7 linked regions of the Homo sapiens genome follow. The protein of the gene in region 7 purifies or fractionates together with the protein of the main gene of each other region. This does not show direct contact. Each region holds a gene or a part of one and is shown on either strand. Other genes may lie near its edges. The genes, in order: CORO1C, PON3, SSBP1, KLHL22, XBP1, PON1 and NFYC.

What was found.
Region 1: the proteins of NFYC (region 7) and CORO1C fractionate together in Homo sapiens (co-fractionation; one large-scale study listed by BioGRID). This does not show direct contact.
Region 2: the proteins of NFYC (region 7) and PON3 purify together in Homo sapiens (affinity purification with mass spectrometry; 2 studies listed by BioGRID and IntAct, with this or other methods). This does not show direct contact.
Region 3: the proteins of NFYC (region 7) and SSBP1 purify together in Homo sapiens (affinity purification with mass spectrometry; one large-scale study listed by BioGRID and IntAct). This does not show direct contact.
Region 4: the proteins of NFYC (region 7) and KLHL22 purify together in Homo sapiens (co-immunoprecipitation; one large-scale study listed by IntAct). This does not show direct contact.
Region 5: the proteins of NFYC (region 7) and XBP1 purify together in Homo sapiens (affinity purification with western blotting, with the first as the bait; one study listed by BioGRID). This does not show direct contact.
Region 6: the proteins of NFYC (region 7) and PON1 purify together in Homo sapiens (affinity purification with mass spectrometry; 2 studies listed by BioGRID and IntAct, with this or other methods). This does not show direct contact.

What each region holds. Positions count from the first base shown.
Region 1 is NC_000012.12:108,651,519-108,655,018, forward strand, and holds part of CORO1C (coronin-1C), read right to left. Parts: intron 2,893-3,500; coding exon 2,788-2,892; intron 900-2,787; coding exon 754-899; intron 1-753. UniProt on the Homo sapiens protein: Plays a role in directed cell migration by regulating the activation and subcellular location of RAC1. Increases the presence of activated RAC1 at the leading edge of migrating cells.
Region 2 is NC_000007.14:95,368,876-95,372,375, reverse strand, and holds part of PON3 (serum paraoxonase/lactonase 3), read left to right. Parts: intron 1-37; coding exon 38-203; intron 204-3,500. UniProt on the Homo sapiens protein: Has low activity towards the organophosphate paraxon and aromatic carboxylic acid esters. Rapidly hydrolyzes lactones such as statin prodrugs (e.g. lovastatin).
Region 3 is NC_000007.14:141,737,176-141,741,157, forward strand, and holds the start of SSBP1 (single-stranded DNA-binding protein, mitochondrial precursor), read left to right. Parts: upstream 1-1,182; 5' UTR 1,183-1,235; exon of another isoform or gene 1,236-1,418; intron 1,419-1,431; exon of another isoform or gene 1,432-1,823; intron 1,824-1,948; 5' UTR 1,949-1,991; coding exon 1,992-2,015; intron 2,016-3,982.
Region 4 is NC_000022.11:20,447,296-20,450,795, forward strand, and holds part of KLHL22 (kelch-like protein 22), read right to left. Parts: intron 1-3,500. UniProt on the Homo sapiens protein: Substrate-specific adapter of a BCR (BTB-CUL3-RBX1) E3 ubiquitin ligase complex required for chromosome alignment and localization of PLK1 at kinetochores.
Region 5 is NC_000022.11:28,794,060-28,797,569, forward strand, and holds the end of XBP1 (X-box-binding protein 1), read right to left. Parts: intron 3,147-3,510; coding exon 3,018-3,146; intron 2,134-3,017; coding exon 2,095-2,133; coding exon of another isoform or gene 2,069-2,094; coding exon 1,988-2,068; intron 1,674-1,987; coding exon 1,116-1,673; 3' UTR 501-1,115; downstream 1-500. UniProt on the Homo sapiens protein: Functions as a transcription factor during endoplasmic reticulum (ER) stress by regulating the unfolded protein response (UPR).
Region 6 is NC_000007.14:95,314,533-95,318,032, forward strand, and holds part of PON1 (serum paraoxonase/arylesterase 1), read right to left. Parts: intron 2,258-3,500; coding exon 2,202-2,257; intron 959-2,201; coding exon 790-958; intron 1-789. UniProt on the Homo sapiens protein: Hydrolyzes the toxic metabolites of a variety of organophosphorus insecticides. Capable of hydrolyzing a broad spectrum of organophosphate substrates and lactones, and a number of aromatic carboxylic acid esters.
Region 7 is NC_000001.11:40,747,204-40,750,703, forward strand, and holds part of NFYC (nuclear transcription factor Y subunit gamma), read left to right. Parts: intron 1-330; coding exon 331-402; intron 403-2,369; coding exon 2,370-2,483; intron 2,484-3,500. UniProt on the Homo sapiens protein: Component of the sequence-specific heterotrimeric transcription factor (NF-Y) which specifically recognizes a 5'-CCAAT-3' box motif found in the promoters of its target genes.

The sequences.
Region 1 (3,500 bases), on a different chromosome or scaffold from region 7:
TCTCTATTTTAGGACCAGTGGGGCCCCAAATACAGTTTTGACTCTGGTTCTTCCACTCATAGGGTAGGAAAACCACCCACTTTTCCATCCCCGAGCCAGGCTCTCCCTACTTGCCCACCAGGGAACGCTGACCATGGCCTCAGCTTGAAGATTAAAGATGCATGTTTCACTATTTCAGTAGGTGTGCAATACACCCCAGCTATGCTGCTTCATTGTTGCACTTCAGTTATATGGGCAGGAAATGAGGTATTAATTCCACAGTACACACAAGGATAGAAAGACTTGGGCTTCATAGAATTTCTTGTAGCTGTATTGCTCTGGTATCACCAGGCATTCAGGTGATGATAAAAAGTGAGATGTGCCGGGTGTGGTGGTGGGCGCCTGTAATCCCAGCTACTTGGAAGGCTAAGGCAGGAGAATTGCTTGAACCAGGGAGGCGGAGGTTGCAGTGAGCTGAGATCACACCACTGCACTCCTGCCTGGGCAACAGAGCCAGACTCCGTCTCAAAAAAAAAAAAGTGAGATTTTTTTCTTTTCTTTTTTTTTTTTTTTTGAGATTTTTTTCTAATGAAGAAACTCAGTTTTAGTGATATCCTTAGAAAGTGCCATCTCATGGCAATGTGTACAATTCTACTACTTTCTTGCTCAGAATGGTCAGATATTTTTGAGATCTGAAGTATATGCTAGTCCAAGTACAAATAATTGTCACACAGTTACACCAACCTAGAATACTTGACAATCTCGATTCTTTACCTGGCAATCTCACATTTGTTAACATCAAGTCCCCTCTTGGGCATGTAACCCATCCCTCTCTGAGGCTCCTTGCTGCTGAATGTGTTGAGGTAGTGGACGTACGGGGATTCATCCGTGATCTCAAAATAGCGAATACTGCTGTCACCCTGTAAGAAACCAGAGACAAGTCTGTGTCTGATTGTTAACTGAAACATCTGGATTATGGGGGTGTCTCTCTCCTCTACAAACCCAGCAGTAGTTGGGACCCCGCTTCAGTAGCTGACCTTTTCTTCCTCATAAAGAGGCTTGCCTAAAGCATATAAAAGTTTCTTTTCCTCACAAAGTAACCCCTTACTTATCAAATGCTAGCATGCCTTTTAAGTGGTCTCCTCAGCCTCCTGGCTCCTGGCTCTAATTTTACTCCCCTGAGCCTAGGCACCAGGCCAGGGTTAGGGCAAAAATGTTAATGCCTCTGCCAAACAGCTACATTGCAATTCAACTGTGAAAAACAAACAAACAAACAAAGACTAAGAGGACTGCTGAGAATGCAATTATTGATTTAAGTATTCATTTACTGGCATAACGCAATGCTGTTATGCCAGTATGATGATAAAAAGTGAGATTTTTCTAATGAAGAAACTCAGTTTTAGTGAGTATCCTCAGAAAGTGCCATCTCATGGCAATGTGTACAATTCTACTACTTTCTTGCTTAGAATAGTCAGATATCTTTGAGTACTGAAGCATATGTTAGTCTAAGTACAAATAATTGTCACACAGTTACACCAACCTGAACAATGACGGCAATCTTGTCTGGCAGAGAGGAGATATACATATATGTAAGAAAGAAGAAGGCAAAAATAGCTAGGTGGTATCATGCCTCAACAGTGCTCCCAGTTCTCATGATTTCCATTTGTCTCAATGACTGAGATATCTAAAGCAATGGAAAAGAAGCTAAACCCTTACTAGTCATTTCTGCATGCCCAAAAGAATTTTCCATCTCATGTTACTAATATCTGAGTAACTGCTCATTTTGTTTGTTTTAATTCAGTCAAGGGCAACAACAGCAAGGTAAATGCACTTAACACCTGTTAACATCTGCAGTAAAATGGCTTTCAAGGAAACAGACAAGATCTCCATTTCTAAAACAATGACCTATAAAAATGTAAAGCAGGTCTGCAGCATGCTCAATCAGCTATGAAAAGCAAACACCAGCTTTACCACCCAGTGAAGGGCTATCTAACAGGTCTAGGGACTACCTCAACAGCTCCACTGTTATTAATTCATTTATTTCAACTACAAAAAGTTCTAAGGGAAATTGAGCCTACAAGAAAAAAAAGGGAACTATAAGGTTCCCACTTACAAAAATGAAATAATAAAGCTACCCACAGTCTAGGTATGCTGAGCTCATAAGGCAGGAGGAAGGTTTTTGGAGTTCAGTGTGGAGTCTCCCTATAACTGTTATCACCCCTGAGCTTTAGTCAGGCCTCATATCTTCAAGCCCAGAGCCCTAGCACTGAACCCCAGGAACAAGAACCCTCTGGAGAGTCTCTGAGGCCCTCAAAAGTTTGCATCCACAAAGCACCATTCTCCTTCCAAGTCCATGGTGTGTGGTACTAAGTATACACATGCTCATCTAGGGTTATCCAACAAATTTCAGCATTAGATGTGGCCAACTGGTTGCCCATCCCTGACATAAGTACAGATAAATCTAAAATCACCAATCAGGTAGCACTGCTAGGTGAAGATGAAACACCAGTGTATCTTCTTTTTTTCACAAGAGCGCCCTGATTGGAGCATTTTCCCCAATACCCCAGCCCAACCTCTGCTTCAGTCAAAAGTATGCAACATGGCGTGTTATCACTGCACAACTGGCAAGCTGCACACAGTCCAGTCTCAAGACCTAAAAATACCAAATTATCTGTCCTTGGCTTATAACATACACACACAAATTAGAAAAATTAAACAGATACAACACATTGCCCGTCCTCTAAATCTCTGAAGGATAAATGTTTCCACTTACAGGATTTAACACCAAACATCAAAATTACTGTTTACCTTTCCACATAAGTAAATGATGCTGGTGTCAGGGTCATAGAAAGGCAGCAACACCCCATTGCTAGTGTCCATCTCATGAAGAGCAATTGGTTCCTGCATATTTTTCTGGGGGGAAGATAATAATAATACATATATGTGTATGTATACATTTTTTTAAAAATAAATTTTTATAACCTTATTATATATTCTTCTATCCCAATTAAGCGAGCCATTTTCCTAGAATAACAGAAGTTTGAACTATGCACATACAATACTCATACATGGAAACAGCAACAGGGATGCTAAATGAGATCCAACTCACAAAATTTCACTGATTTGACAACATAATGCGCGCATACATCAGCGTGATTTCATGACAATGATGAGAAAGCCCTTCTCCTTTGTTACTGTTTTCTTTTTCTTTTTTTTTTTTTTAAAGACTGAGTCTCCCTCTGTCGCCCAGGCTGGAGTGCAGTAGTGCTATCTCGGCTCACTGCAATCTCCGCCTCCCAAGTTCAAGCGATTTTCCTGCCTCAGCCTGGCAAGAGCTGGGATTATAGATAGGCACATGCCACCACCCGTGGCTAATTTTTGTATTTTTAGTAGACACAGAGTTTCACCATGTTGGCCAGGCTGGTCTCCAACTCCCAGCCTCAAGTGATCCAGCCACCTCAGCCTCCCAAAGTGCTGGGATTACAGGAATGGCCACTGCGCCTACCCTATTTTATTTTTTT
Region 2 (3,500 bases), on a different chromosome or scaffold from region 7:
TGTATATGTGTGCACACTTGTTCTTTATTTTTAAAAGGGATTAAAATATCCAGGCATGCCAAACTTTGCGCCAGATGAACCAGGAAAAATCTTCTTGATGGATCTGAATGAACAAAACCCAAGGGCACAAGCGCTAGAAATCAGTGGTGGATTTGACAAAGAATTATTTAATCCACATGGGATCAGTATTTTCATCGACAAAGGTAAAACCTGTATGTTTAGGGATAAGGGGGAAATGAGGGAAATAGAAACCATTTATCTCCAGCCCCTCAATATTTATGTAACAGGAAGAGAGAAGATGCTATTTTACCATACAGATGTGTTTTTTTTAAATGATAAATAGGTATAAAACCTTGTAAACATTGCATTAAAGAAGGAACACTAGTATTTTTGGCCCTATGTGGCCTCCTCCTCTTCCTTCTATCCACTTGTCTTCTTGTTTGACTGTCACAACCTGTTTGAATACTGTTCTCAGAAATCTAACATGTAAACTAAAGGCCCTTTAGTTTAGTTGTCACTAAAGACAACTGTGAGACGTTAAAAAACATAACATAAGGGGGAAAAAAACAAATTAGACTCATCAAAGTTAAAAGCTTTTGTGCTTCAAAAGACACCATCAAGAAAGTGAAAAACAACCCAAAGAATGAGAGATAGTATTTGTAAATCATATATTAGATGAGAGACTTGTATTCAGACAATATAAATAATTCTTACAACTTAACAAAACACAAATAATGTAATTTAAAAATGGACAAAGTATCTACCTAGATAGACATTTCTCCTAAGATACACAAAGGCCTGTAAGCACATGAAAGATGTTTATCATCCTTAGACATTAGGAAACTACAAATCAAAACCAGAATGAGATACCATTTCACACCCACTAGGATGGTGATAATTAAAAAGACAGACAATAACAAATGTTGGCAAGGATGTAGAAAAATTGGAACCCTCATACTTTGCCAGTGGGATTGTGAAATAATGTAACCACTTTGGGAAGGAGTTTTGCATTTCCTCAACATGTTAAACATAGAGTTACCACACAATCCAGCAACTCTGCACCTTGGTGTATGCTCAAGAGAATTGAAAACCTATCCATGCAAAAACCCATATACAAATGTTCATAGCAGCATTACTCCTAATACAAAAGGTGGAAATAACCCAAATGTCTATCAACTGATGCATTCATAAACAAAATGTGATAGGTATTTATACAATAGAACACTATTTGGCAATAAAAAGAAATGAACTACTCATGCATGCTATAATATGGATGAAGCTTGTAAATATTATGCCAACTGAAGGAATTTAGTCACTAAAAGCCACACATTATGTGATTCCATTTATATGAAGTGTCCAGAATAGGTGAATTCACAGACAGAAAAATTGTTGGCAGGAGCCAGGGGAGTGGGGAAGGAGGAATGACAGCTAATGAGTAGGTGATTTCTTTTTGGGTGATGAAAATGTTCTGGAACTAAATAGTGGTTATGGTTGCACAATTCTGTGAATATACTAAAACCCACTGAAGTTTACATTTTAAAAGTCTGAATTCAGTGGTGTGTGAATTATATCTCAAAAATATATTATAAAAACATAAGTTATCAATATACCATATATGCTTTAAAAACAATAGTTTCCAATATTATTTTTGACTTGTTCACAGTTCATAATTTCAAACATTTAATTTTAAAATATTTTTGGGTCTATACAGCATGAAGAAAATTAAGAACAGGGAAACTTCACTAACAGTAACCACATGAAAGGAGGACCAAATTGAAGTGCTAGAATTCCATGAAATCTTATATACACTTTTATTTGCTTAGCAAGCTCTGCTTTAAAAGATAATTGAATCTAACAATTTTTCATTGGTTTATAGTATACAAACTATTTTCATATATAATGGTGTCTTTACTTCTCGAAATAAAATCCTGGGCCCAACCTTGACACTTCCTCTCCCTGGCCCTTTTGATCAACTCATTATAATGTTTTGTTTAATGTATCTCTCCAATATCTCTCCAGTCTGAAATATCTGTCCATCTCTCCCCATCCTCACTGCTACCAGCAGTTCAAGGCCCCAGCATGCCTTCCCTGATTCTGCATGGGCCCCCAACTGTACCTTCCTTCTCATACCACCTCAATTCATTGTCATAGTAAGGATTTCTTTTTATGCAAATCTGATTATGTCCCTCTTTTCATCAAATTTTTCATATTGTTCTGTCACTCTGAGGATAAACCCCAAATCTCCAGAACGGCCTGGGTTCCTGGGTGCTTCCCCTGTACCTTCTGGCACCTGTATGCTCTCCAGTTTCACTGGAAACCATTCTCCTCCAGACTCTCTGGACCAGCCATACTGGATTTCTTTTCATTCAGTGAAGTGTCTCATGCCTCAGGATCTTTACATCTGCTGTTCCCTCTGCCTGGAATGTCCGTCTGCCACTTCTGGCTCACTCTTTGTCATCATTGAAGACTCAGCTTAAATATCATCTTCTCAGGGAAGCCTGCCCACCATCTTGTTCCAATTTGTGTACCTTTCTATATTTCTTCTCAATGTACCTCTTTTTTAAAATCATTCATTACGGTGGTAACTAATTTTTTTTTTATGAGATGAAGTTTTGCTCGTCTCCCAAGCTGGAGTGCAGTGGCACAATCTAAGCTCACTGCAACCCCTGCCTCCCGGGTTCAAGCAATTCTCATGCCTCAGCCTCCCAAGTAGCTGGGATTACAGGCATGCGCCACCATGCCCGGCTAATTTTTTGTATTTTTAGTAGAGACAGGGTTTCACCATGTTGGCCAGGCTGGTCTCGAACTTCTGACCTCAGGTGATCCACCTGCCTTGGCCTCCCAAAGTGTTAGGATTACAGGTGTAAGCCACCACTCCCAGCCTACAGTAGTAACTTTTTTTTTTAAATGTTAAAGGATAGGAATTTTCTTTCCCTCTCCTGCTCTTGCTCTATAGCAAGTTCCTAAACTTAACTGTTACTCTTCAAATGAATGACACTCTATGAAGAACGTGTCTCCCCACTCTAGTATTCTTTGTTTTAATTTATTTAATAATTTTTCCTCCTTGTTTTCCTCTCTCAAATATAATCACCATAAAAGCATATTGATTTGTCCATTGCTGGATTCTGAGAGTCTAGAACAGTATCTGATGCACAGTAGGTACTCTATGAACACATATCAAATGAATAAATAAACGAACCCTATAGGACAGGCAGAGCACATAGTAATATTCAACTTTATAGATGGATACAATGAAGTTTAGAGGAATGCAGTGAAGTGTGACTTCACTTCTGCAATTAGTAAATGGCTGATCCAGAACTCAGACAGAGGAGGTCTCACTTCTAATCCTGTGTCTTTTACTAAAATGAGATTAGGACTCTATTTAAATAATTTTAAAACTGCAACTGTTTTGCCTCACACTGTACAAGACATAAGATTCTGCATTGGAGATGGTATAATAAGTGATTAGATTTACCTGAAACTATTTCATTGCATGGGAT
Region 3 (3,982 bases), on a different chromosome or scaffold from region 7:
TTTATGAAGTGTTTAGTGGGTACAATAATGTCCTAGACCTTCATGTTGGGCCACCACTCACTCATTTACTCACCCACAGCAACTTCCAGTTCCGCAAGCTCCATTCATGGTAAGCGCCCCATACAGGTGTGCCATTTTTATCTTTTATACCGCATTTGTACTGTACCTTTTCCATGTTTACATATGTTTAGACACACAGATACTTACCATGAATTACAATGGTCTGCGGTATTCAGTACAGCCCCATGCTGTCAGGTTTGCAGCCTGGAAGCAGCAGGCCACACCACAGAGCCGAGGTGTGTCCAGGCTCCACCATCTAGGTCGTCAAAGTACATTCTGTGGTGTTCGTACAGCAACAAAATCGCCTAATGACGCAATCCTCAGACCTTACCCTGTTGTTAAGGTACACATGACTCTTATTTTGTTCCTCCCGGATTTCCTGCATTAATTTTTACTTTTTAAAATATTACATTAATATATTATTTGATTGCCAGTTTTTCTGGTGCTCCCTTAAATTGCACAGCCTGCCAGCCCTTCCCTGGCTCCCCTTTCTTTTTCTGCTTTTCTTAGTGCTTCAACAGACCTGGGACGTTCTTTTTCTTTCTTTTTTTTTTTAATTTTCTTCTTTTTTTCTTTTTCTTGTTTTGTTTTGTTTTGTTTTGAGATAGAGTTCGCTCTGTTGCCCAGGCTGGAATGCAGTGGTGCGTTCACGGCTCAATGCAGCAACGACCTCCAGGGCTCAGGCGATCCCCCGACCTCAGCCTCCGGAGAAGCTTGGACCACAGGCGCGCGCCACCACGCCCAGCTAATTATATATTTTTTGTAGAGACAGGTCTCACTATGTCGCCTAGGCTGGTCACAAATGTTGCTTTTTTTTCCCTCCAGGCAGAGCTAGTCTCTGTTTTGCCTACCTCGCCCCCTCCTGGGCCCAGTTAGAAACCTCATCACATAATTTCATTTCTTTCCAAACTTGAAACCTTCTAAACTTGAAACCTTCTAAACTTGAAACCTTCCAAACTCACCACTTGGCGGCGTTGATCCATCCGCCCGCGCACAAAGAGAAGATCGCGGAACTTCAGAGTTAAGGGGAGCCGTTTCCCGCAGCGCTAGCCGGCAGTATTTCCAAGGCGCAAGTTGCGGAGTTTCTGTTTCCTTTTTCCTCTGGCGAGCTTTGCGTTCCCTGTGCGCCGGAAGTGATCCCCTGCGTGGCTGGGCTGCTCGGGTTAGATCGTCAGGTGAGGGAGGAAGGGATAGCCAGCGCGAAGGAAGTGCTGGAGTCGTGTGTTTTGGCTGCGCGTGATCCTGCGTGGGTCGGGAGGTGTTTCTGTGTAGGTGTCTGGCCCTTTCATCAGTCGTGCGGAGGACCGCGTGATTTCCTTCCAGTTCTCCTCGGTTTTCAGGTGGTGGCGCCATCTTCGGTAAAGGGTGTCCACCTCTCCCTATGGTGTGGCTGGCTAGCCCGGGGGTCTCTACGCTGCTTGGTCTTTGTTAACGGAGATGAAGGCAGTAATTTTTCAGTAACAGGTTTCAGATATAAGTCCCTTGGTGATGCTAATATTTATGGAGGCCTTACTATGCATTAAGAACTTTTTTAGAAGTTTAGAAAATGGCAGTGAATAAAGCAGATACAAATCTCTGCTCTAAGGGAGCTTGCATAGTAATGAAATTTGAGAAGACAGTGGATTGGAAGTGGGATTAACTCAGAATCAAAATTTTGTCGATGGGTTGGAGGAAGAGGAAGTTATTTGGGACCAAAAAGACATACAGGTGTGAGTTTATTTGGGAGGGAGGAAGGAATCCTCATCAGATGTGCAGGAATGTTGGTACGTTGTGGTCACAAAATTGGAGTGCATAAAAATTATGAATATAGTTAGGAATTTAGGACTGGTGAGTTGTACTTTTGCCATAAGAGGTAATGTTTTTTTCTTATTTTGTTTTTTTCCTTCAGGAAAAGCCTAAAGATTAGACTGTAAGAAAAGAAAATAGAAGCCATGTTTCGAAGACCTGTATTACAGGTAGTCACTTGTCTGTATTAATACTGAGATGTATTACTATCAGCCACAGTGATCAGAAGACTTCTTTAGGCTTTTAACTACAGGGGCAAAAGACCTTTGAGCTCACCCACCCACCTCTATACTCATTTGATATGGAGGATTGGGGACGATTTTGCCAGTGTAAATTATGTTCACTAAAACAAAAAAAAAGTTCAGGTTTATTCACACGTAATAGGAATCATTAATTTTTAAAATGTGTGTGTGTTGCTTGAATTTAACCAGTGAGAGGACATTAAAGGTCTTTAGTGACCTAAAGACTGTAGGAATCATTGTTCCAACTTTTTTCTTAAGGCATGTAGTTGCTTTTTTGACCATCTACCTCCTGTGTTGCTAAACGTTCCTCTTCCCCCATCTTTCCACACTGAAGAGAGCATCTCAAGTCTCAGTGGTCACCAGAGATTTCACTATGTAGAAAATGCCTTCTCATTCCACTTAGTATGGGTCCTCACTTTTCCAGACACTAGCCCACCTTGAGCCAGCTTAGACTACCATTTTTCCTCACTTACCACATTCGGGCACCAGCTCCTGTAGATTCTTCTTTGGCTCTCCTACTCCCCATCCTCCTGTGAAGACCAATGAAGAACCAGTTCCTCCATGACTCTGTCATTTTCCCCACCTTAATCCTATATTCTTGGATCCCCACTTTAACCTGTATGTATCTTTAATCTATTTTTTTCTGTATTGAAATGTGAAACATGAAAAAGTTATTGCTTCTTAACACTAACGTTACAGTATTAAAATGTCTTTAAATAAGAGTTAAAAGTTTAATTTAAAAAATTATCCAAGTTAAATAATCCTTTCCTAATCTTCTCCAGTAGATTTTTGTGTGCCCCAAATGAGACATTGTTATTATAAATCTCTGTGTAAGATTTATGAGGTCTAGCTTGTCTGAGCACTCAAATGACATTTCCAGAATCATGACACAGGTTCTCATTAGCAGTTTGATTCTATAGTATGTTGTACTCATATCTTTATTTTCTTATCTGCCCTCTGCTCCTAAGTTTAGTGATAGGATTAGATAGCCAACAGCACCCTGGGGATTGGTGTTTATTTGATTGGTGGACTTCTGCTTTTTATATTAACAGTACTGCCACTTCAAAAATGTTTCTCTGATAGAATGGCTAGCTCTCTGAGCTCTGAATTCAGTGATGTGTACTCCCATCTTTACAGGAGCTCTTGAAATTAAGGAGGCAGCAGAGGGCTTCGGGAAAGCAGTAGCATTGGTGTCAAGGGCCCTGGGTCCTTGAGATCACTTGCCACATACTTCCTGCAGGAGCTTGGGCAGGTGATGCAGTCTCTCTGAGGTGTTTTCTCAGCCCTAAATGGGAATAATTTTACATAACTTGTAGATTTAGTTTTAGAATTGATAATAGATAAATCCCTTAGCTGATATTCAGTAATGATTGCTGCTATTATGTGGTAGTGACTACCTTTGCTGACAGTGATGTGACTTTGACTTGGACAGTCGAGTCTTTGTGTTTAATCAAAGAACCAAATTTATTAGACCTTTTTTGATGCACTAAAAACAGGAAATTTCCTATGAAATATTTATAAAAACTGTATTAGGCTAAGCTCACTACTGAAGCTGTTTAATTTTTGCAATAGCCTTGTGAAGTAGGTATTATGTATCATAATTTTTGCTTATTTTAAAATGAAACACTTTAGATTAGTCATATTAGGTATCCTAATTCCTTTTAAGGTCTGAAGGAGCAACCAGGGGAAGGCAGTTTCATAGACACAGGGAATCTGACTTTGGAATATGTTCCTGTTGCTGTGTCAGAAAGTCATTCATGTGATTAGTTTTAGAATGTATTGTTTTGTTGGAATGTAACCTATCTCTCGTTCTCTAAACCAGCAGACCCCAACCTTTTTGGCACTGATAACTGGTTTCATGGAAGACAATTTTTCCATGGAGGAGGGGGGTGCCG
Region 4 (3,500 bases), on a different chromosome or scaffold from region 7:
CACTCACACCCAGCAGGCCAACAGAAGGCCCCAAGGCAAGGCCCTGGGTGTTTTGAGGGTAGAGGAGCCCCTCAGGGTGTGGAGGCTCCAGAGCTATGTTACTGGGCAAGTCACTAACACTGAGGCCATGCGGGTGGCAAAAACACAAGAGTCTAGAGAGGTGGACGGAGCAGTGGGGAGGAAGAACACACACCAAGGGTTTGGTTTGGGTCTTCTCCTATCACCAGTAGGGGTCTGGGGAGGTTTTTCTTTTTTTTTTTTTTTTTGAGACGGAGTCTCGCTCTGTCACCAGGCCGGAGTGCAGTGGCACGATCTCGGCTCACTGCAATCTCCGCCTCCCGGGTTCGAATGATTCTCCTGCCTCAGCTTCCCGAGTAGCTGGGATTATAGGCGCCCGCCACCATACCCAGCTAACTTTTGTATTTTTAATAGAGACAGGGTTTCACCATGTTGGCCAGGATGGTCTCGATCTCCTGACCTCGTGACCCACCTGCCTCGGCCTTCCAAAGTGCTAGGATTATAGGCATGAGCCACCACGCCCAGCCGAGGTTTTTCTTTTTAATTAAACTTTTCATTTTGAGATAAGTGTAGTCACGTGTAGTTGGAAGTAAAAATACAGAGGTCTCACGTGCCTTCTTTCCCCCATGGTAGGAGCCTGTGTCACTATATCACAGGGTCACCAGGATGCTGACGTGGACACAGCCACAGAACTGTCCTATCACCACCAGGATCCCGAGGGGCTGCCCTTTAGGGTGACATCCACTCACCTCCCTTACCCTAATCCCTTCCTTAAGCCCTGGAAACCACCAATCTCTTCTCTATTTCTACAGTTTTGTAACTTCAAGAGTGTTGTCTGAATTAAATCAGTATACAACCTTTTGACATTGGCTTTCTACCCCAACCCAGGTTCTACCAGGTTGTTGCATGTACAGGTTGAGTACCTCCAAAATCTGAGACTTTTTGAGCACAAACACGGCACTCAAAGGAAATGCATTTCAGACTTTTGGATAAGAAATGCTGAACCAGTAACTATAATGCAAAGATTCCAAAATCTGAAAAAATCTGAAATCCAAAACACTTCTGGTCCCCAGCATTTCAGATAAAGGGTACTCAACATGTACCAATAGTTGGTTCCTTTTCTATTGCTCAGTAGTATTCCATGGGTATCTACCACAGCTTGTTTAACCATTCACTGTTGAAAACACCTGATTTGTTTCCAGTTTCTGGCTATTACCAATAAAGCTACTATTAACATTCATGTACAGATAAGTTATTTTTTATTTTTTTGAGACAGGGTCTTGGTCTATTGCCCATGCTGGAATATAGTGGCACAATCTTGGCTCACTGCAACCTCTGCCTCCCGGGTTCAAGCAATTCTTGTGCCTCAGCCTCCGGAGTAGCTGGGATTACAGGCACGCATCACCATGCCTGGCTAACGTATACAGAGTAGTTTTCATTTCTCTGGGATAAATACCCAGGATGGTAACTGCCAGATCTGTTTTCCAGAGTGGCTGTACCATTTCACATTCCTATCAGCAATCCATGAGCATAGTTTCCCTGCACAGTCACCAGTATTTCGTATTTTCACTACTTTTTATTTTAGTCATCCTGAGGTAGTTCTCTCACTGTGGCTTTAATTTGCATTTCCCTGATAGCTAATAATGTTACATATCTCCTTATATGCTTATTTGCCATCTATACATCCTCTTCAGTGAAATGTTTCTTCAACTCTTTTGCCTTCTGTTTTTTGTTTTGTTTTGTTTTGTTTTGTTTGTTTTTTTTTGAGACAGAGTCTTGCCGTGTCGCCCAGGCTGGAGTGCAGTGGCACAATCTCAGCTCACTGCACCCTCTGCCTCCTGGGTTCACACCATTCTCCTGCCTCAGCCTCCCAAGTAGCTGGGACTATAGACGTCCGCCACCACATCCAGCTAATTTTTTGTATTTTTAGTAGAGATGGGGTTTCACCGTGTTAGCCAGGATGGTCTCAATCTCCTGACCTCGTGATCCACCCACCTTGGCCTCCCAAAGTGCTGGGATTACAGGTGTGAGCCACCGTGCCCGGCTTCTTTTGCCCTCTTTTTAATGGGGTTATTTGCAGTATTTTGCCAAGGTTTTTTGTTTTTGAGATGGAGTCTCACTCTGTCGCCCAGGCTGGAGTGCAAAGGCACGGTCTCGGCTCACTGCAACCTCTGCCTCCCAGGTTCAAGCAATTCTCCTGCCTCAGCCTCCCAAGTAGCTGGGATTACAGGCGTGTGCCACCGCGCCCAACTAATTTTTGTAGTTTTAGTAGAGATGGGGTTTCACCATGTTGGCCAGGCTGGTCTCTGGTCTCGAACTCCTGACCTCGTGATCCGCTCACTTCAGCCTTTCAAAGTGCTGGGATTACAGGTGTGAGCCACCACACCTGGCCGTTTATTGAGTTTTAAGAGTTGTTTATATATGTATTTATTTAATACTAGTCCTTTGTCAGATAGGTGGTTTGCAAATATTTTTTAATTTTGATGAAGTCCAGCTTATCAATTTTTCTTTTTATGGCTCATGCTTTTGGGGTCAAGTCTAAGAATTCCTTGCCTAGCCCTAGCTAGATCCTCAAGATTTTCTTCTGGTCATCACGTCGCGTGGCCGCAGGGAGCAGACCCGGACAGCTCCAGAGCCTCCGGGCCGGGGCGGCGGCGGCGACGCTTCGGCTCCTCCTGAGCCACCTGCTGGACCCGCACCCCACTCCATCCCCACAGGCTGGGGACAGGCCCTGGCGCGGCTGTGTGGGATCAGAAGCAGAGTTGCAGAATCCAAGGACCTATTTTTGTTCTTTCTCCGCACTGCTTTATGGGAGGCATTATGGCCCCCAAAGACATAATGACAAATACTCATGCTAAATCAATCCTCAGTTCAATGAACTCCGTTGGGAAGAGCAATACCTTCTGTGATGTGACATTGAGTAGAGCAGAAAGACTTTCCTGCCCATGAGATTGTGCTGGCTGCCTGTAGTGATTACTTCTGTGCCATGTTCACTAGTGACCTTTATAGAAGGGGAAACCCTATGTTGACATCCAAGGTTTGACTGCCTCTACCATGGAAATTTTATTGGACTTTGTGTACACGGAAACAGTACATGTGACATGGAGAATGTACAGGAACTGCTTCCTGCAGCCTGTCTGCTTCAGTTGAAAGGTGTGAAACAAGCCTGCTGTGAGTTCTTAGAAAGTCAGTTGGACCCTTCTAATTGCCTGGGTATTAGGGATTTTGCTGAAACCCACAATTGTGTTGACCTGACACAAGCAGCTGAGGTTTTTAGCCAGAAGAATTTTCCTGAAGTGGTACAGCATGAAGAGTTCATTCTTCTGAGGCAAGGAGAGGTGGAAAAGCTAATCAAGTGCGATGAAATTCAGGTGGATCCTGAAGAACCAGTCTTTGAGGCTGTCATCAGTTGGGTGAAGCATGCCAAGAAAGAGCAGAAAGACTCCTTGCCCAGCCTGCTACAGTATATGCAGATGCCCCTG
Region 5 (3,510 bases), on a different chromosome or scaffold from region 7:
CGTCTCTTTGAATCTTAACCTTTAGAGATACCATTATCCAACTTTACAGATGAGGAAATAAGTGATTATATATAACCCCTGGGTTACCCAGCTTACCAGTGGCAGAGTTGAAAATAGGGAGTTTCAGTCTAGAAAATGCTCTTAATTCCCATAATAAGGGCAAGAGAATCTCGATATGTGATGGTGTGTCCTTGTTTAACATTTATAAGATGGTGTAGCAAATAGTGGTTAGGGTTCTAGCTCTTCCACTTACTAGCTGTGATATTGGTCAGTTAGGCTCAAGAATCTGTCTCAGAAAGACAGTAACTGCTCAAATTATAGCTTATATCACTTATGGCAGTCCAGAATTAAAGCAGGCAGTAATTAAGGTGGAAAAGCCTTCAGTCACTTTAAAAAGCGTTAGGCTCACTTCAGTTGGATTAATTCCTACCACAGCACACAGATAAACATCTGGAGAGAAAACAAGACTTACGGCCCTAGAAGAAATCAAACAAGGATGCTGCATTGTACCTTTTAATTGCATGGGTAGTTTTAAATAAATGGAGAAAGCACCTTTCAGAAGCTACACTAGCAGGAAAAAATTCCATCAAGCATTTACATAGTAAATTTCTATAATTTCACAAAAGATTCTTGATCTTACTTGAAGTATACATGAGGGAAAGAGCCCCCTCAGCAGGTGTTCCCGTTGCTTACAGAAGCAAACTAAAGGACCTAAAACTGGAGGCAAGCCAGGATGCCAAAAAGGGGGAAGAGAAATGATAAAGAACCATTCATAAATTCCATGTCTACTTCAAGACATTTGTCTAATGACCCTTACATAATAAGTATTTTAGGGAAAACTACCACCCTTTTAAGATAAAAGTACAATCTTAAAAGCTGTAGTTCTCAATTATAGTAATATTTCTTACTTCCAGTAATATGTCTCAATACCTTGGACTGCTGGATGTCAAAAGACAATACCTGGGGGTCATCTATGAGATCTGAACAAATAGAGGAATTCTCTAGGACTGTATACTCTCTATTTTGGCTTTTTGAATGAAGTACAGACAGGCTTCTCTGCTATCCTCCAGGCAGTGTAATAGTCAAGGAAAAGGGCAACAGTATTGGATCATTCCTTAGACACTAATCAGCTGGGGAAAGAGTTCATTGGCAAAAGTGTCCTCCCAAGAATGGTTTACACCAAGCAGAGAGGACATGTCACTGAATGGGGAAAGGGAACCCCCGTATCCACAGTCACTGTAAGCATCCAGTAGGCAGGAAGATGGCTTTGGGCAGTGGCTGGATGAAAGCAGATTTGAGATACCCAGCTCCGGAACGAGGTCATCTTCTACAGGTTCTTCCTTCACTGAGACAATGAATTCAGGGTGATCATTCTCTGAGGGGCTGAGAGGTGCTTCCTCGATTTTCACTACCACATTAGCTTGGCTCTCTGTCTCAGAGGGTATCTCTAAGACTAGGGGCTTGGTATATATGTGGTCAAAACGAATTAGTTCATTAATGGCTTCCAGCTTGGCTGATGACGTCCCCACTGACAGAGAAAGGGAGGCTGGTAAGGAACTGGGTCCTTCTGGGTAGACCTCTGGGAGCTCCTCCAGGCTGGCAGGCTCTGGGGAAGGGCATTTGAAGAACATGACTGGGTCCAAGTTGTCCAGAATGCCCAACAGGATATCAGACTGTAAGAGGCAAAAATTAAATGAAGTACAACTGTCAGAATACAATGGAAAATCTAACTGGAACACTTTGTACTGGGTTCCATAATGTAAATTAGTCATTATGTGATAAGATGACCTCGGGACCCACCAGACCCATTTATCTACACTTCACTCCATGTTCTATATTACCTGGAACTAGGAAGGTAGTTGATGTTCACCTCCAACCCCACCAAAAACTAACTTCAACCCTCATCTGTCTAGTTAGGGATGTCAAGCATCAAACAGATGGAATTAACTGGTTATATAGCTCTTTAATAAGTCAGAATGATCCCTACCTCTGAATCTGAAGAGTCAATACCGCCAGAATCCATGGGGAGATGTTCTGGAGGGGTGACAACTGGGCCTGCACCTGCTGCAGAGGTGCACGTAGTCTGAGTGCTGCGGACTCAGCAGACCCGGCCACTGGCCTCACTTCATTCCCCTGGGAGGAAAGACCAAAGTGAATAAACAGCTTCAAGTGCCCAAGGAAATGCTTGCTAGACAGCTGTGATTCTCAACTTTAAAGAATTACTTTTCAAAAAGATTCTAGGGTTAAATTGCTATAGAACTTTATTATCTAACAACATTATTATTATTGAGAAGAGCAAGATAAGATATTTGCCAGTTCTGCTTGAATCTTTGCCTGGAGGAGGAAAAATGTTTCATTGTGCAGGAAATGTATAAGGAAGCCTTACCTCCCTTTTCTCATCTCTTGAGGACTTAAAAGTGGAAATAACAATGGTTAGGGAAAGATTTCAGCTGTAAAGAATGGTTTTCTAGTTTTCTTGAAATTTGTCCTGAACATTACCTTCACAGAGTAAAACTGTGCTACTGTCAATCTTAGACCATTTGATTGTTGTCACTGAATTTGCCATAATCTGTAGACTAAAACTCACATACCACCCTTCTCTTACCACAGAGGTATCACTATTACAAAGAATCCTTTCCCTACTCATTCATATTCATCAAAGAACTACTTTAATTTTAGTAGCGTTCAAAATCTGGTTTGAGTGGCTCTCTTACTTTGGTTCTCCTTAATGATTGCATGGTAATCTTGTTGGCTACTGCATTTGTTAGTACTTGTTCTTAGGGAGCCATGTAACTTGTTTTCATTATTAGATCTTAGTACTGTTCACTACACACTTAAAAAATGAGTGTCAAGTGCCTTTAGGGGAAGAACACTCTGCCTGCATGAAAATGTCTTAAAACTGAAGGAAAATTTCAAGAACGCTCTTGATCAGAAGTCCAGACTGTAAACATAATCGCTGGGTCATGTCACTTGGAACCAGTACTCACATGAGGCACCAAATAAAGGAGATGATTTACCTTGGCTTCCGCCTCCTCTTCAGCAACCAGGGCATCCATCCCCAAGCGCTGTCTTAACTCCTGGTTCTCAACTACAAGGCCATGAGTTTTCTCTCGTAAAAGCTGATTTTCTAGCAAAAGTTTTTGGTTCTGGAAGAAAGTTCATAAGAGGCTATTAAAACATCTAATTATTTCAGTTAAGAATCTACCTGATTCAGTATAATTGGTTTCCTTTCCTTCTTGAACTTTTGGAAAACTCTATGCTTGTGGTGTTCATAGTAGGTTTTAAAAAGCTAGGCCATAATTATGGAAAAGCAAGCTACTTAATAAGTGCCACTTCATGGGGTCAAGAATAACACACTGCTTCCAACTACTAATACTGACTTCAGCAAAGGGTGACTTGTGGCTTTAATGTAGATATAATTTTTTTTTTAAACTATCTTGGCCAGGCTCGGTGGCTCACACTTGTAATCCTAACACTTTGGGAGGCCAAGGCAGGTGGATCACCTGAGGT
Region 6 (3,500 bases), on a different chromosome or scaffold from region 7:
TGAGGGATCGTCTGATGATGAAATGGAGGTAATGGGTATAAACGTGGTTCTTAACCCTAGCCTGACATTTTTATCAACTGAAAAACTTTTAACAACTACTGTGATCCAGGCCTCCCTCAGACTAACGGAATTGGAATCTGTCAAGCTGGGGGCTGGGCATCGAGTCTTTTTAAACTCTTCAGGTGCTACCATTGTGCAACTGGGGCTGAAAATTAATACAGAGACAAGGAAGTGACAGCAAATGGAAAGGGAGAAAGGGAGTAAAGACATAAAGGATGACACCAAGTTATGTTGAAAGGGACCAACATGCAGAGGAGCATTTTGAACACAGAACAGAGGAACCAGCGGACAGGAGGCATTGAAGATAATGGGACCGGCAGAAAGCTGACCATGGTGACTTTCTGTCACTGGACCTATAGCTTACAGATGCCTTGGGTTAGAAAAATCTGTTCCTGTAAATGCCCGAGTCTTGAAAATCGTTTAAAATGGAAAAGCTATAATGATCAGGGCTGGATATTATTATTATGGTAATTATAGGGATAATGTGAATGTTAGTATTTTACAAAATTAGATGCTTTACAAATCTTAAATATTTTAGCATTCTCAAGTATTTAAGTGGTTTTACTATAAAGTTCAATTAACATAGAGGGTAAGTTTAAAACCCAGAGTAAGAACATTATTCATGACTATGCTTTGTTTGAATGAGAAAAAATAATTCATTTATTGGCATGTTTTTCTGTTTTTGTTTTAAGTTTGGTTTTGGTTTTAATAAATAGTAAATATTGTTACCTTCATCTGTGAATGTGCTAATCCCATGAGGGTTAAATGAAGATACATCAAATTTACTTCCAGTGATCCCCAATTCCAACACTGTTGGATCTTCTTCATTCAGGTCCATCAGAAGTATTTTTCCAGGACTGTTGGGGTTGAAGCTCTTTATTCCAGGATACTTTAATCCCTTATAAACCATGGAGGAGAAAAATCAAGCACAATACCAGTACTTCAAATGCTAATAGAGGCGCTGCATGGCCCATGGGTTCATGTTGACTGCTCCAAACCACAGGGCTAGCCAGATGGCCACATAGGAAGCCTCTTAGTTAGCTTCTGTAATGGGTCCCCAGGAGAAGTCTTCTGGAAGCCACATGCTCCACTAGGCCACCCCACACAAACCCTTTCATCCCCTGCAGCAAAGTCATATGTGCACGACACTACAGCTTCCAGCCCATGAGAAAGATCAAAAATGGAAGAGCAGACCAAAAAGGCAATTAATAATAGTCTTCAATGATATAAGCAAGGAATACAGAGAGAATATTGCTTATGGCTTTTAAACTGTTCCCTGGTAGGTCCTTGGAAGCATCTCAAAGACAGAGTTTTGGTGGGCCAGAGGAACTACTCCTTTCTTAGCCTTCAATCAAAACAATAAAGCTGTTGTTTTATATATTGTGTTCCCATATAAGATTTTGCTTGAAATACACCTTATGTTGCTCAAGAAAGTTTGCAAGACATTGCTTTGCAGGATGACTAGTCTATCATCTTTGTAAGAGAAAACTGGACTAAGTAAATTACAAGGGGTAGCAAAGGTTTTTAAATGGCTGGATGATTGTCTGTCGTTTCCTATCAACTCTGTTATGTTATGATCCCTAGGCCAGATGGTGGACTTCTTTTGTTTTGCACTATATCAGCTACCATAGCGATCTATATGCAGGACAGTTTCAGCAAATATGGTGGATTCTGTCTTCAAAGCTTGGGAATTGGGAATTGGGACCTATCAACAATTTTAAATTAAAGGGCTTATTCTGAAATTTGTTTAAAAATGTGAAAGTTGAAATGACCTGTGAAGTAGTATACATTAAATGTATATTTAATTTAGCAAATATTTGAATATGGCAATTTTAAGTGCTTAGGGAATAGACAATTGAGAGGAAAACAATTCTTGAATACACTGAACTCACAAAAAAATTGCTGCAATAGAAGCTAACGTAATATGGTTCAATGTAGACCGAAGAACACAAATATGCATAGAACACGCATGATCATAATTATAGCACAAGTGTAAATGCATACACAATTTGTCTTTTAAACCATGACTGTTCATTTTATTTGAAAGTGGGCATGGGTATACAGAAAGCCTAAGTGAAAGACTTAAACTGCCAGTCCTAGAAAACGTTCTAGAACACAGAAAAGTGAAAGAAAACACTCACAGAGCTAATGAAAGCCAGTCCATTAGGCAGTATCTCCAAGTCTTCAGAGCCAGTTTCTGCCAGAAAAGAGAACAGAAAGTACAGGTTGTTTCATATTATTGCAGGATGTGGATCCATTTCTTTATCACACCTCACTTGAAACTGGGGCTATACATCACTCTTCTTTAATAGGTTCAGAATAATTCATTCTTTCATTTATTCAAATTGATGAATGCGATTATATGGAAATTAAAAATATATTAATTCATTAACAAGTTTAATTAAAATTTACACTTAGTATATTTGTTTTAAATTGATGGACTAGAGCTTTTTCCTCAAAGACTGAATCCTCTTAAAGTTCATGGAAATTCACAAAACGTACAAAAGCCATGATTATTTGAAAAGAACTTGTTTTCTAAAGATACAAGGTAAATTACAAATATATGTTGATACTTAATACTTCCAAATCAATTAAACCCTTGGAAAGCCATATTGAAGATATAAGCAAATTCCAAATAGTTGAGTTAAAATGGGGATACATTTTAGGTGATCAAGAATATGAATTTTTACTACTAATTATAAACATCGGTTAAATATTACTGTCTTCAAGTTAGTTATACTTTAAGTACATGTAAATTTTTAACATTTCAATTTATCTAGAGAAAAATGAACTATTTGATAGGTATTTCTACACTTAGTGGAAAGTTTGCTTTTCAAAAACCCAGTGATATTTGATATCAATATCATATTTTTCTAGAAAACAATCGCACCATAAGATATCTAGTGAAATTTAGTGGTACTAAGTCATCTGATCTAGCCTCCTGAGCCTTAATCAACTGAGATGAATAATTCTAAAAGAACAAAAAAAAAAAAAAAAAAAAGAAAGAAAAAGAAACACCCAAAGCACACAAAAGCATGATCTCAAACCAATTGTCTTCAAATAACAAAGCTGGTTGGTTGGAACCAGCTGGAGAGTTGAGCCCGGGGACTCTCCTTGTTGGTTGCCTCCCAGCTGCTATTCTCCTACCGTTTTATCTTTGCTGACAGGGCCTGCCTCCCACATTGGAGGCTTGATAATTACTTTCCCAGCATCCTTTGCAACTAGGGCACCAGCCTGTCCTCCAGCTCTGACAAATAAGATCTAAGGGGAAATCTGCTGAGAGCTTCTGGAAAAAATTTTCCTGTCCAATATCAAAAGAGAGATGCATAAGGAGAAGCCTTGTGGTAATTGCAAAGTCCTGTCAGAGCCTTTCTAAAAAAAAGTTACCTTTATTCAATGCTTTATCTGGCTCTCCCTCCCCTCTTCTGCCATCTCCTCAG
Region 7 (3,500 bases):
AAAAGAAGGCGCTCATAATGTCCCTCTATGTTGTGCTGACGAAAAAAAAAAAAAAACAGATATTGCTTGGGGCTGTGTTTCATGAGAGCACTGTTAGAGGCCATCCTAAGCTTTTTCTAAAGCCCATTAATTCTTTGAAGACCTGCATATGTTAAGTAAAGAAGAATTTTGCTCTGGAGCTTGTATTTTCTTCATTTCATCTGTACCTTCTCTCCCGACATACGCTTCCTGAAGAGAGGGACCAAGCCAGAGTGTTTCCTACTGCCTGTCATGCTTTGCCACACTGTTGATTGTCCCCACCATTTATGCATCTCTTGTTGTTCATTTCAGAAAGACTTCCGAGTGCAGGAACTCCCACTGGCTCGTATTAAGAAGATTATGAAACTGGATGAAGATGTGAAGGTGAATTCACATTCATTTTTATTATTTCTTATTGAAGCTAAGTGATGGGTAGGTTATTGCTCATTTCTCTAGAGCTCAAAGTTTAATTAAACAAGAACACACAAAAATTACTGTCTGTTGCTTTGTTATTTGGTTCCTGTGCAAAATTGTTAAGTGAGCCAAAATTGAGCAGTTTTGGTTACTATATGGATCATCCTGAAAATTTTTTAGATGTTGAAAAAATAGTTGATGTTGGGTTTTTTTTTTTTTTTTGAGAGTTTTACTCTGTTATCCAGGCCGCAGTGCAGTGGTGCGAGCTTAGCTCACTGCAACCTCTGCCTCCCAGGTTCAGGCAATTCCCATGCCTCAGACTCCCGAGTAGCTAGGATTACAGGCGCCCGCCACCACACCTAGCTAATTTTTGTATTTTTTGTAGAGACAGGGTTTCACCATGTTGGCCAGGCTGGTCTTGAACTCCCGACCTCAGGTGATATGCCTGCCTCTGCCTCCCAAAGTGCTGGGATTACAGGTGTGAGCCACCGCATCTGGCCTTTTCTTTCTTTTTGAGACAGGGTCTCACTCTGTCACCCAGGCTGGAGGGCAATGGCATAATCACGGCTCACTGTAGCCTTCACCTCCCAGGCTTAAGTGATCTTCCCACCTCAGCCTCCCAAGTAGCTGGGACTACAGGCACGTGCCATCATGTCTGGCTTAATTTTTAATGTTTTTTTGGAGTGGGGGACAGGATCTCACCATGTTGTCCAGGCTAGTCACGAACTCCTGGGCTCAAGCAGTCCTCCAGCCTCAGCCTCCCAAAGTGCTAGGATTAGGCATGAGCCACCATGCCCAGCTGGTATCTCACAGTTCTGTTCACAGTGTAGTATATACATGTATCATCAAATCAACAGGACAGTGCCATCATCTTAGCGTCTTACATAGTTTGTTGATCTGAACTCTTAAGAAATTTTTGATAATGATATTCTACCTGTTCTAACCTTTTGATCTATGAGTTTCTTTTACATGAATAATACTTGTGAGAGGGTTTGCGTGGGCTTGGCCATTTCTGTATTCCTAGGAGTCCATCTCCATTACAGATCTCAGAGAAAGAGGAACTCTGTCTCTTTACCACTCAAAATTAATAGTCTTTTGTATTTTCACAGAAAGCTAACAATTGATAGTAATTTTCCCTTTTATTAGCTCCTTTCTTCCTCACAGTAGCCCTGTGAGATTTGATATAATAAGAATTATCAGTTCCATTTTACAGACAATGGAAATAGACACAAAGAGGTTAAGTGACTCACCCAGAGTGATAGGACCAAGATCCCATTTCCCATCTGCTGCTTCTTTAACTCCAGAGCTCTTTCTGTGGCTGTATCCTGCACAGACTACCTCACCAAAGGTTTAGAACCTTGTTTGACCAAGAGCTTCAACTTTGAAATCAGACACATCAAGAAAGTTTATATGGCTTGAGCATTTCCTATATGCCAAGCCCTGGGCTGGGTACATATATTATCTCATTTGATTGCCACAATAAAACTGAAAGGTTATCCTCTTTTTCAGTACATGAAAAAGCCCAAAAGGATGGGAAGCCTGCAATTTTATCCAAATCCATTGGCTTTCAAGCTCATTCTCCTTCCTCATATTGTTTCTCCTTGGATTAGAACCTAAACCCTGCCACTTACTGGCTCTATGGCTGTGGGCAAGTCACTTCATCTCTCTTGACCCCTAGTTTCTTTGAAAGGCTATTATAAGAGTAAGAAAACACCTTGCACAAGGTTTGGCGCATGGTATGTGCTAGATAAGTATTCTTTCTCCCTGTTACCTGCTTTGTTCCCACTCATGGATTTATTTTACCTTGGAATCTCTTGAGTATACCACCTCATTTTTTGACCCTTGCCCCATAGTCCCATGCCAGGCAATGAGGCAAGAGACAGACTGGTTTGCATGACTTGCTGGTGATTGACAGGGAGGGCCTGTGTCTGTTACAGATGATCAGTGCAGAAGCGCCTGTACTCTTTGCCAAGGCAGCCCAGATTTTTATCACAGAGTTGACTCTTCGAGCCTGGATTCACACAGAAGATAACAAGCGCCGGACTCTACAGGTATTATTGCAGACTTAGATTAGGAAAACTGGGGTAAGCAGCAGCCTTTGCCTGTTTTCCTGCGTGGTGTTGGAGAAAGATTGTTCTCCTTTAGGACCAAAGATTGTTCTCCTTTAGGACCAAAGATTGTTCTCCTTTAGGCCTCTATCAAGCTGACGTGTCATTGGCATCACCACTGTTGGGAGGCAGACATACCTTCTAGCCATGGTGATTGTGTTTCTCCACCAAAAATCTTAATCAATTCTCTCCTGGTTTTCACAGCTTAGTGACTGAACTCTTTTCCCTTGGTGAGCCCTCACTATAAACAGAGGCTCAAGTGATAAGAGTATTTACCTGTTTCCAAACGTAATCAACTTCTGGTTGGGAGCCTTGAGAGATTCCAGGAAGTATCATCAGTCTCACTAGCTTCATTAGGCTTTTTGTTCCTTGTCAGCCTTCCTGGGAGTCCTTTTCTTTTTCTTCTTCTTTTTTTTTTAATTTTAATTTTTAACCTAGCGAATTCACATTCATACTGTATGCAGAGCCCTTGGTCATTGACTCTAGAAACCCTCACCCTATAGCCAAGCCCTGGCTCTTAGAGGAAAGATTTCCCAGATACAAGAAGAAGAGTGTAACAAGTATAAAACAGTGGTGGCAGTATTTTAACAATGAAGCCAAGAAAGTAAATTATTTTCTCTTCTTGTTTCCCTTTACCTACAAAGTAGAAAATGCATGTGTTTATTCATTTATTCTAAAAATACTTACTGAACACCCACAATGTGCCGGGCACTTTTCTAGGCTCTGGGGATTAACGATACACACAACAGACAAAAATCCTTATCTGTGGGAAGCCTGCATTCTAGTACAGCTTGTCAATGCGTCATAAAGTTAGGATTTGTGTACATTACTATATGAAAGTTTTAAAGCAAAAAAAGCAAAAAATACTGAGCTCCAATAAATGATATGCATGTTGAAGTCACAAAATTTATGTTGCCTTGAAGTTAGTCTGTGGATCCAGAGAGATCCAGTTAAAGCTCC